Homo sapiens: one gene and its partners. The protein of the gene in region 2 purifies or fractionates together with the protein of the main gene of each other region. This does not show direct contact. Each region holds a gene or a part of one and is shown on either strand. Other genes may lie near its edges.

What was found.
Region 1: the proteins of TRAP1 (region 2) and OPA3 purify together in Homo sapiens (co-immunoprecipitation; one large-scale study listed by IntAct). This does not show direct contact.
Region 3: the proteins of TRAP1 (region 2) and WDHD1 fractionate together in Homo sapiens (co-fractionation; one large-scale study listed by BioGRID). This does not show direct contact.

Annotation. Positions count from the first base shown.
Region 1 is NC_000019.10:45,557,175-45,560,826, reverse strand, and holds part of OPA3 (optic atrophy 3 protein), read left to right. Parts: intron 1-3,652. UniProt on the Homo sapiens protein: May play some role in mitochondrial processes.
Region 2 is NC_000016.10:3,658,448-3,662,099, reverse strand, and holds part of TRAP1 (heat shock protein 75 kDa, mitochondrial isoform 1 precursor), read left to right. Parts: coding exon 1-113; intron 114-3,234; coding exon 3,235-3,307; intron 3,308-3,652.
Region 3 is NC_000014.9:54,992,533-54,996,184, forward strand, and holds part of WDHD1 (WD repeat and HMG-box DNA-binding protein 1), read right to left. Parts: intron 3,282-3,652; coding exon 3,071-3,281; intron 1-3,070. UniProt on the Homo sapiens protein: Core replisome component that acts as a replication initiation factor. Binds directly to the CMG complex and functions as a hub to recruit additional proteins to the replication fork.

The DNA of each region.
Region 1 (3,652 bases), on a different chromosome or scaffold from region 2:
CAGCCACTGTGTTGTGACCTAGAGTGTCTGAAGTGCCTGTGGCCTGGAGCTCCGGGGCTGAGAGAGATCTGAGCATAGGAGTTTGGGTCCTGAAGTTCTGAGTGGCCCCTGGAAGTAGATGTGACAGTCGAGTGAGAAAAGGGCTTAGGAAATGGTGCCCTGAGAAATGACAGCCACTGAGGCCGAGGAAAGGGTCTATATCAGAGACAGATGTGTAGAGGGGGCCTGGAGCCAATCCAGGAAATCCAGGAGGAGGGGCAATGCACAGTGCCACATTCTCGAGGGGACAGATAACACCAAAAGCATCAGGAGAGAGAGAAGGGAGATGGGGGAGCCAGAGACAGGAGCCATACCCATTGTCCATGGTCACCTCCTGGGCACCTCCACAGATCAGCTTTTTCATTAAGTGCCTGCTCTGTGCCTATCTGGGGCTGGGGACAGTGCAGTGACCGAGTTAGCCTCAGGTCCTGCCTGCATCGGCCTCACAGTCCAGTTGGAGAGACAGACTTGTCACCATGCAGTGAGGACCCAGAGCAGTCAGAGCTCAGATAGAGGATCCCAGGGGTCTGGAGGTCAGGGAAGGCTTCCTGGAGGAGGGGACATCTGAGTTGGGATTCTCCGGTATGGAAGACAGATGAAAGGGAGTGAGTCTGGAGGGAGAGAGTTCAGGGAGGAGACGGAAAACGATTCTATGTAACCCAAGAGTAGATTCACACCAGTGGGTAGGATGTACTTCCAGGAATAAAATTCCTGACAGAAGTCAGGAAGAGGATATTAGGTTAACATTTACAAACTGAGCATTTTCTCCCTTACTCTGTCATTGCCATTCTCCCAATCCTGTCAGTTGAGTATTTTGACCCCCAGTTTTGATAAGGAAACACCAAGGCTCAGCTTGCGAATCCAGAAAGTGACAGAACCAGGATTTGAGTCCAGGTCTGTGCGACTCCAAAGGTCTTGCTGCCATTTATTAAGGCCGGCCTCGTGTTAAGCCCAGGGAGCTTTGAGAACCTTGAGAATGTGTCTGACCCAGCCTATGGTTCAGGGAGGGCTTCCTGGAGGAAGGGACAGTCCAGCTGAGATCTAAAAGAAGAATTGGGAAAAGACAGGAAGAGAGAAATGGAGGGGGCCAGGTGCGGTGGCTCACACCTGTAATCCCAGCACTTTGGGAGGCTGAGGCGGGTGGATCACGTGAGGTCAGGAGTTCGAGACCAGCCTGGTCAACATGGTGAAACCCTGTCTCTACCAAAATATACAAAAATTAGCCAGGTGTGGTGGTATGTGCCTGTAGTCCCAGCTACATGGGAGGCTGAGGTGAGAGAATCACTTGAACCCGGGAAGCGGAGGTTGCAGTGAGCCGAGATTGTGCCACTACAGTCCACCTGGGACAGCATGGCGAGACTCCATCTCAAAAAAAAAAAAAAAAAAAAAAGAAAGAAAAAGAGGGAAAGAAGAGAGAGAAGAGAAAGAAAGAAAAGAAAAGAAAGAAAGAAAGACCATTGTCCATATTCTTTTAAGTAATAGAGAAAGTAGGAATACTGACTTACTCATTTTATGAGTCCAATAGAATACTGATATCAAAGCCTGATAAAGTCATTACAGAAAAGGAAAATTATAGGTTAAGATCTCTCATGAAGTTGGAGTTAGGCCAGACACGGTGGCTCACACCTGTAGTCCCAGTACTTTGGGAGGCCAAGGTGAATGGATCACTTGAGGTCAGGAGTTTGAGACCAGCCTGGCCAACATGGTGAAATCCCGTCTCTACTAAAAATACAAAAATTAGTCGGACATGGTGGTGGGCGCCTGTAATCCCAGCTACTTGGGAGGCTCAGGCAGGAGAATCACTCGAACCCGGGAGGCAGAGGTTGCAGTGAGCCAAGATCAAGCCACTGCACTCCAGCCTGGGCAACAAGAGCAAGACTCTGTATCAAAAAAAAAAGCACCAAAGTCTCATGAAGCAGCACTCAGAGGGTCTCCTCTCTGCCTTAGTCACACCACACTGGAGAGTGTTTCCATGGCCACTGCATTGCAGAGCGGAGATCATGCCACTGCACTCCAGCCTTGGGGACAAAGCGAGACTCCGTCTAAAAAAAATAAAAAAAAAAAACAGCAGAACATAGAATAATAAAAACTGCATACAAATCCCCTGTAGAAATGGGGGAGCGGAGAAAGGGCAGGCCGCATGGGGGCAGAGTGCTCACCTTTCATAGTGGGGCTGGATTATGAGTAGGTAACGATGGCGTAGATCTGAACAAACCTCCAGTTGAAGAGCTCAGAAATGAGTGAGGTATGCTTACTATGGGCTGTCCAGGAGATGGCGCTAGGGGAAAACAGGCTGGCGACCGCAGTAGTTGAGGGTTCCTCTGAGGAGGGGACTTTGGCTTTACATTTTATAGTTTGAGTACTTTGTTTTCTTGCCATGTGTTACTTTTATTTGCGGCAGGAGTTGGGGGTGGGGCGACGGGGAATGGTAGGTTTGTTCTTTTCTTTTCTTTTTTTGAGACAGTCTTGCTCTTGTTGCCCAGGCTGGAGTGCAGTGGCGTGGTCTTGGCTCACGGCAACCTCCACCTCCTGGGTTCAAGCGATTCTCCTGTCTCAGCCTCCCGAGTAGGTGGGATTACAGGGGCCTCCCACCACGCCCCGCTAATTTTTTGTATTTTTACTGGAGATGGGTTTCACCATGTTGGCCAGGCTGGTCTTGAACTCCTTACCTCATGATCTGCCTGTCTCAGCCTCCCAAAGCGCTGGGATTAAAGGCCTGAGCTACCGCGCCCAGCCAGTTTGTTCTTTTCTTCTCACCAATTCCTTCTGATTGCTGCGTGGGGGACAATTGCAGAGGGGTGAGGCTGGGGCCGGCAGGTGGGAAGGAGGCTGGAGGCGGGACTCACTTATGTGTTAAGCTTAGATCTAATGAGCATCATGCGTGTGCCTGGCCTGGCACTGGGCAGTGCTGGGGACACAGCAGTGACTGTGACAGCCCTGGGCCCCACCCTTGTGAGGCTTACAGGACAGTGGGGAGACTGATTGCAGACAGGTAACTGGATAGCCACTATTCCTGGTTGTGATAGGCACTCAGAAGGGGATAGACAGGCTGTATTCCTCCTATTCAGGAGGTCAGGGAGGAGAACGTTGGTCAGAGCTGGGATGGATCCTGGACCAGGACAGCAGAAGGGAATCCACTGGGAGAGATGTTCAAGATGCAGAATGGACCCGACACGCAGCTGAGAGGCTGTGGGAGAAGGGGAACAGCTGGGCTGAGGCCCCCGTCTCTAGCCAGGGGACAGGTGTGGGGCCAGGTGCTGGGTTCAGGTTTGGATGTGCTGAGTGTGAGAGGTCTAGGAGACATCTGGAGCGTGTTGACCCCCGCAAGTCTGGTGAGTCCTCCAGCTTAGCCTGTCCCGGCCCCTCACAGCTGTCCCTTCTAGAATCACAGCCCTGTGATTCATCCCCACCTGGGCCTTGTTTCCTGAACCCCACATCTGACCGCTGGCCCGAGGGAGAATGCCGTCGGCCCCTGCTCTGAAAGCCCTGAAAGCCCATGCCTGCGTGCACACACGCGTGCACACACACACACACCCTCTTGATTTGATTTCCTGTGGCCTGGGTATGTGCCCACTCCCATTGGCACACCTAGACCCACCTGCTGGCCCAGATC
Region 2 (3,652 bases):
GTCACCGTGCTGGAGATGGGGGCTGCCCGCCACTTCCTGCGCATGCAGCAGCTGGCCAAGACCCAGGAGGAGCGCGCACAGCTCCTGCAGCCCACGCTGGAGATCAACCCCAGGTGAGGCCACGCTCCTGGCTCTTCCAGCCTGTGGGATTCCCCAGAATCCTGTGTGTGGTGTTCTTTTGTTGTGGAATGTGACACAGAAGAAAAGTGCGTGAGGCCTGTGGACATGTGGGTAACTATAAGGAGCTGTATGCAGTTTAGGCTGCACCCATGTGAAATGGAACCTGGCCAGCCCCTTACCATCCCCAGGTGTCACCTGGGAGGTTAGCCACATCCCAGCCTGTGACCATGTCCTCGTTTTGCTTTATGGCTTTGCCACCTGTGCGTGTCCTGGACATGCTCAGTTTTGCCTGTTTTGAGCTTTGTACGTGGATCTTGGTGTTTGCTGAAGTCTCACGTTGCTCACTTGGCATGAGGGTTGCCCATGCAGAGGGGCTGCCACAAGTTCATTTTCATAGCCGAATAATGTCCGCTGCAGAAACCCACCTCGGCACAGCAGACTGCTCCGTTCTGCTCTGCTGGGCCTCCGGTGGTTCTTGGTCAGAAGTTGTGGAGAGCCAGGCTGCTCTGAGTATTCTTGTCCACGTGTCTGGGGCTTGTGTGGGTTTCTCTGTGGCCCCGGTGGTGGGAGCTGCTTCCAGGGTGCACCGAGAACCCCCCAGCCCTGACAGTGGCTGAGCCGTAAGATTTCCCTCGTTTCTTCCTGTTGTTCTTTATATGCCCTTTATCTGTTGTAAATGTCTTTTCACCTGCCTTTAGGTATCTTTTGAGTTTCTTTCTTTTTACAGTATCACTTCTTTGCACCCATGAATGTGATCTATTTAGGTCTTTAACATCCTTTGGTACCTTACATTCTCTGTAGGGTTCTGGTACCATTTTTAAAGAATTATTCTTTGATGTGTCTTATGGGGTATTTTAAAATTTCATTTTCTAACTTGTATATGAACTAACTTGTATATGAAGTTTCTTTTTTGGGGGAAATTTTGAATGTAGCAATTTTTTAAAAAATGAAGTTACATAAACATGTTACCAAAAATAGAAAACAGCAAAAAGGAAATCAAAATCCATAGACTTACCACCCCCCCCACAATGTAGCCTAAGTAGTATTTTAATTTTTGAGACAGGGTCTCACTCTGTCCCCCAGGTTGGAGTGCAGTGGGGCAATCTCAGCTCACTGCAACTTCTACCTCCTGGCCTCAAACAATCCACCTGCCTTAGCCTCCCGAAGTGCTGGGATTACAAGTGTGGGCTACCACCCCCAGCCAGTTTTTGTTTTGTTCTTTAGTACATGTCTAGTTTTTTTCTTTTGTCATTTTACAACCATAACTTTTAAAATTATACTGGAGGCGAGGGAGATGCATCTTCCTAGCCATGGCACTCCTGGGGAAAGGCTGACTTGGCTTATGGCTGTCAGTGCACAGCAGCGCCAGTATGCAGAATGCCTGTGCCTCTGCTGGAGCAGCTCAGTGAGGCGGACACCAGGTCACTTTAACTAGTTTTGGTGGCAAACTAGTTTTGTGAGATAGCTGCAGAAGTGCTCGTTTCTGTCTGTTGCCACTTCACTTTTGGAGACAGGGTCTTGCTCTGTCACCTAGGCTGGAGTGTACCAGTGGCGCCATCAGAGCTCACTGCAGCCTTGGCCTCCCAAAGTGGTGGGATTACAGGCGAGAGCCACTGTGCCCAGCCAGCTTCACTTTCATTTGTTTTAAAATTTGGTGTTCTGTCCACATAGTTCAGAATTCAAAACTGCTTACAGGGGAAAATTTCCTCCTACCTGTGTCCCCAGTGCAGCCAGCATTAGGGCTTTTGTATTTCTGCAGAGATTATGTGCATTTGTGGGCAGCTGCGCCCGTGGGCTTCCAAGGGGGAACTTGCTGTGCAGTGGGTCCTTGCCTTGCTTTTCTCCCTTAGGGTAACTAGGTGACCTCCACATTAGCATATTAAGAATGTCCTTTTTTTCCAGCTACGTAGACTAGAAATGTGAGGATGTGCATTTGAAGTGTTTCCTCTGTTAGGTTGGGTGCGGTGCCTCACGCCTGTAATCCCAACATTTTGGGAGGCCTAGGCGGGTGGATCACTTGAGGTCAGGAGTTCGAGACCTCATCTCTACTAAAAATACAAAAACTAGCTGGGGGTGGTGGTGGGTGCCTGTAATCCCAGTTACTTGGGAGGCTGAGGCAAGAGAACCTCTTGAAACCAGGAGGCTGCGGTGAGCCAAGATCATGCCATTTCACTCTAGCTTGGGTGAAGGAGTGAGAGTCTATCTATCTATCTATCTATCTATCTATCTAAAAAAAAAAGTGTTTAAAGGGATGCAGTTAGGAAATGGAATGGCTGAGTCTCAGCATATCATCCACATGTGGTTTTCCCGACTCCAGTTGTCCTCTGGAGAGGTTGTACAAATTTACAGTTCCCCAGAGCCCTCGGTTTTATCAGACTTCTAAGTGAAAAATTATAATATTCATGTTAAGGTTAAATACTACATGATGCTTTTTCCTATGCAGAAAAAAATATTGTTCTGACGTCAAATATGTCAATCATTCTTTACTTTTTGGTTTGTGGTTTTGCTTGGAAAGGCTTTCCCCTTCTGAGATGATGAAACATTTCTTCCCTAGAATTGTGCTTGTCATCTTTGATCCCTCTGGAATTTACTCTGGTCTAAATGGTTTTCTGCATGGCTCCCAGTCATCCCAGTGCTGCTGGATGGAGTGATCTGTCTCCTCCCTCTTCTGTGAAATACTGTCCTCATCAGACACTCAGTGTCCACCCTCGTTACATGGAGTTGTTTGCCTTCCCCCTTTCCAGACCTAAACTGTTTTATTTACTAGAGCCCTATAATATGTTTCAACATGTGGGTCTTACTCCCTTCTCTTTTATTATTTATCTAGGAACCAAGGCATGTCTTCACGTACTAAGCTCCTTTTGTCCCTTTAGTGTATATTAATCTTGGAGTTTGGCTACCTTACAGCATTTTCTAATACTGACACTCCTGATTCTCTTGGGTTTTCTGGGTATATAATGATATTATCTATAAATGATCATTAACATACCTTATTTAAAAAACTACAGACAGTCTTACTGTGCTTCTTTAAATATCCTGATAATCCCAAAACATGAAGGGAGGGTCACAGCACGTGGTACTGAGCTGCTTTTTCTGGTGGGTTCTGTGTTGCAGGCACGCGCTCATCAAGAAGCTGAATCAGCTGCGCGCAAGCGAGCCTGGCCTGGCTCAGCTGCTGGTGGATCAGGTGAGTGCAGCAGCTTAGGATGACTGCAGGGACCCAGGCTACCAGCCCTGCCAGCCTGCCTTCAGGGTGGAACAGCGGTTTCCTCTAAAATCCTGTCTTTTTGTTTGTTTGTTTGTTTTTTGAGATGGAGTGTTGCTCTGTTGCCAGGCTGGAGTGCAGTGGCGCGATCTTGGCTCACTACAACCTCTGCCTCCCGGGTTCAAGCAATTCCCCTGCCTCAGCCTCCCGAGTAGCTGGGACTACAGGCATGCGCCTGGCTAATTTTGTATTTTAGTAGAGATGGGGTTTTCACCATCTTGGCCAGGATGGTCTCAATCTCCTGACCTCGTGAGCCACCGTGCCCAG
Region 3 (3,652 bases), on a different chromosome or scaffold from region 2:
GATATTGGAAAGCTTCTATTTGCCATTATGAGCTTCACAACTTTCTAATACTTAGAAACTACTGATGAGATTGGTAACAACACTAGCAGATATAATTTACAGCCAGGTGCTGTGACTCACGCTTGTAATTGCAGCACTTTGGGAGGCTGGGGAGGGAATATCACTTGAGGCCAGGATTTCAAGACCAGCCTGGGCAACAAAGCAAGATTCCATCTCTACAAAAAATAAAAAATTAGATGGGCATGGTGGCATGCATCTGTAGTCCTAGCTACCCGGAAGGCTGAGTGGGAGAACTGCTTAAGCCCAGGAGTTCAAGGTTACAGTGAGGTGTGATGATACCACTGCACTCCAGCCTAGGTGACAGAGCAAGATGCTATCTCTAAAAACAAAAATTAATTAATTAAAAACAACATATAATTAATTAAAAACAAAAACAAATAATTTATATTAGATAATAAAAAGTGTCAGTATAAAGAGGATCTATAAACTTCAGTGAACCAATATTATCAATTCATATGTTACAAAATTAAACATGATTTTAAAAAATCCATTCAACATTCAAGTCAGACCAATGAATTTTTTGATTTTATTTTGTTTTTTTCTGAGACAGGGTCTCGTTCTGTTACCCTGCCTGGAGCCCACTGTTGCAATCATGGCTCACTGCAGCCTCGACCTCTCGGGCTCAAGAGATCCTCCTACCTCAGCCTCCCAAGTAGGTGGGATTACAGGCACACGTCACCACACCTGGCTAATTTTTAAAGTTTTTTTGTAGAGAGGAGGTCTCACTATGTTGCCCTGGCTGGTCTTGAACTCCTGGCCTCAAGCAATCCTCCTGCCTGGGCCTCCCAAAGTGCTGGGATTACAGGTGAGAGCCACCATTCCCAGCCAGACCAATGAATCTTAACATAACAGAGCCGTAAGAGTTCACTGAAGTTTTCAGATTACACTTTGCAAGTAATCTTTAGGAAACGATCATCTTCTGAGTCTTGGTGCAACATCAAAGAATATCCACAATTAATTGAATGTGCTATTAAAAGATTTCTTAAAATACTTCTCCCTTTTCAAATTACATATTTATGTGAGGCCAAATTTTCTTTATACACTTCAAACAAAAACAATGTATAGCAATAGACTTAATCCAGAAAAGTAGATGAGAGAATCCAGCTATCCTCTATGATAGACATTACAAAGATTGCAATGCCACTCTTCTCACTAATTTTTTTTGTTTTTCATAAAAAAGTACTATTCATGTTTACATGAGTTTATTAATGTTATTTTTAAGTGAATAAATATTTTTAAATTTCTGAATTTTAATTTCTAATATGTAAATGACGATAGCCGTAACTCTGTATAAATAAATGCTCTCGGAAGGGTCCTCAAAATTTTTTAGAGTATAAAGGCTACTGAGACCAAAACATTTGAGGACTGCTGTTCTATAAACTCTATATGACTTTAAAAAGCACAACATAGCACTGCACATTGGCATTTTACTTGATAATGTTCAAGTGTTATTGTAGCATGTAAGTTGTTACAATAAGCACTCTATTTGAAGATTTTCAATTACAATCTCAATTTCTTCATTTTACTTGATAATGTTCAAGTGTTATTGTAGCATGTAAGTTGTTACAATAAGCACTCTATTTGAAGATTTTAAATTACAATCTCAATTTCTTTAATAGATACAATACTATTCAGGTTATCTATTACTTCTTGAGTTAGCAGTGGTACTTTGTGTCTTTCAGAAAATTCGTCTATTTCATTTAAGTTGTTAAATTTATGGGCACAAAGTTATTCATAATATTGCCATTATGCCTTTGATATTAATAGTAGCACTGCCATACAGACATATAATGTGAGTTACAGCTGTAATTTTAAATTTTCTAATATTTCTAAAGTTTAAAGAGTAAAAAGAAACAGCCATAATCTTAATAATATAGTGCATTTAAAATACATATTATCATTTCAACATGTACTCAATATAAAAAATTTCCCAAGATTTTTACATTCTTTTTTTCATATTGTCTTCAAAATCTGGTTGCACTCCATGGTGAAACCCCATCTCTACTAAAAATACAAAAATTAGCCAGGCGTGGTGGCGCATGCCTGTAATCCCAGCTACTCAGGAGGCTGAGGCACAAGAATCACTTGAATCCAGGAGGCGGAGGTTGCAGTGAGCCAAAATCACACCACCGCACTCCAGCCTGGGTGACAGAGTGAGACTCCGCCTCAAAAAAAAAAAAAAAATCCGGTTGCACTCATAACATATCTCAGTTTGAACTAACCACATTTCAAGTGCTCAACAGCTACATGTGGCTAGTGGCTACTATATATTGGATAGCACAAATCTACAGATCTATAGTGATGGCCCACCTCTCTTTCATTCTCTATGTTAGTAATTTGTGTCTTCTCTTTATTGATCAACCACGATAGATATTTATTAATTTTATTGATCTTTTCTTTTCTTTGGAGATGGAGTCTTGCTCTGTTGCCCATGCTGGCATGCAGTTGACGCGATCTCGGCTCACTGCAACCTCCACCTCCTGGGTTCAAGTGAGTTTCCTGCCTCAGTCTCCTGAGTAGCTGGGATTACAGGCACGTGCCACCACACCCAGCTAATTTTTGTATTTTTGTAGAGACAGGGTTTTACCATGTTGGCCAGGCTGGTCTTGAACTCCTGACCTCAAGTGATCTGCCCATTTCAGCCTCCCAAAGTGCTGGGATTATAGACGTGAGCCACCGTGCCCGGCCTTATTGATCTTGTCAAAGAACCAGCTTTTGGTCTCATTGACTTTCTCTATAGGTTTTCTGTTGTCAATTTTATTGAATTTTGCTCTGTATTATTTCCTTCCATTTGCTTGGGGTTTAGTTTTCTCTTTTTCTAGTCTGCCATAGCAGAAGCTTGGATTATAGATTTGAAACCTTTTTTAACAAAGTCATTTAATGCTATAAAATTTCCTCTAAGCACCACTTAGCTACATTCTACAAATTCAATAATGACTTTAATAGTGTTAATAAAAAATCTAAAATATTAATCAACAGGGTAATCACATGCACAAAGTCAAATTCTTACCAACTGAGTTTTCATCATCTTCTAGGATGTGACTTCGCTGTCTAGGACGACCTGAAGCCATCATGAGGTCTTCATCATCCTCATCATCATTTATAATCCCTTTTGAAAAAGAAGGGATCTCAACTGCATTGTCATTTAGAAAATCACCAGCATTACTCATATCATCTCCATCAAAAAGATCATTATAATCCTTTTCCACTCTGCTAGATACCTTGAACAAATTAATACAAATTATAAAGTAAAAGTGAATGATTTAGAAAAACTCAATTACTAAAAAGGTAAACTTTTAATATGCACCTATAAATTCTACCAAGCAGCAAACTCACTGAACAGATAAGAATAATTAGTAAATGTATTTATGAGAATTGTATTTATATTTACACAATAAGACCCAGTCCTTATTTCAAATGCCTTGTAGTCTGGGGATGGGATGGGAGTATAGGGACTGACATGTAAACAAATACTGTATATGCCAAAATATAAAATAAGATTTTATTCCTCAGAAGTCATTCCCTAGAAAAGAAGTGATATTAATATGATAAAGTCCCTATAAAGTCTGTCATATTGTAAGACAGTCTCTCA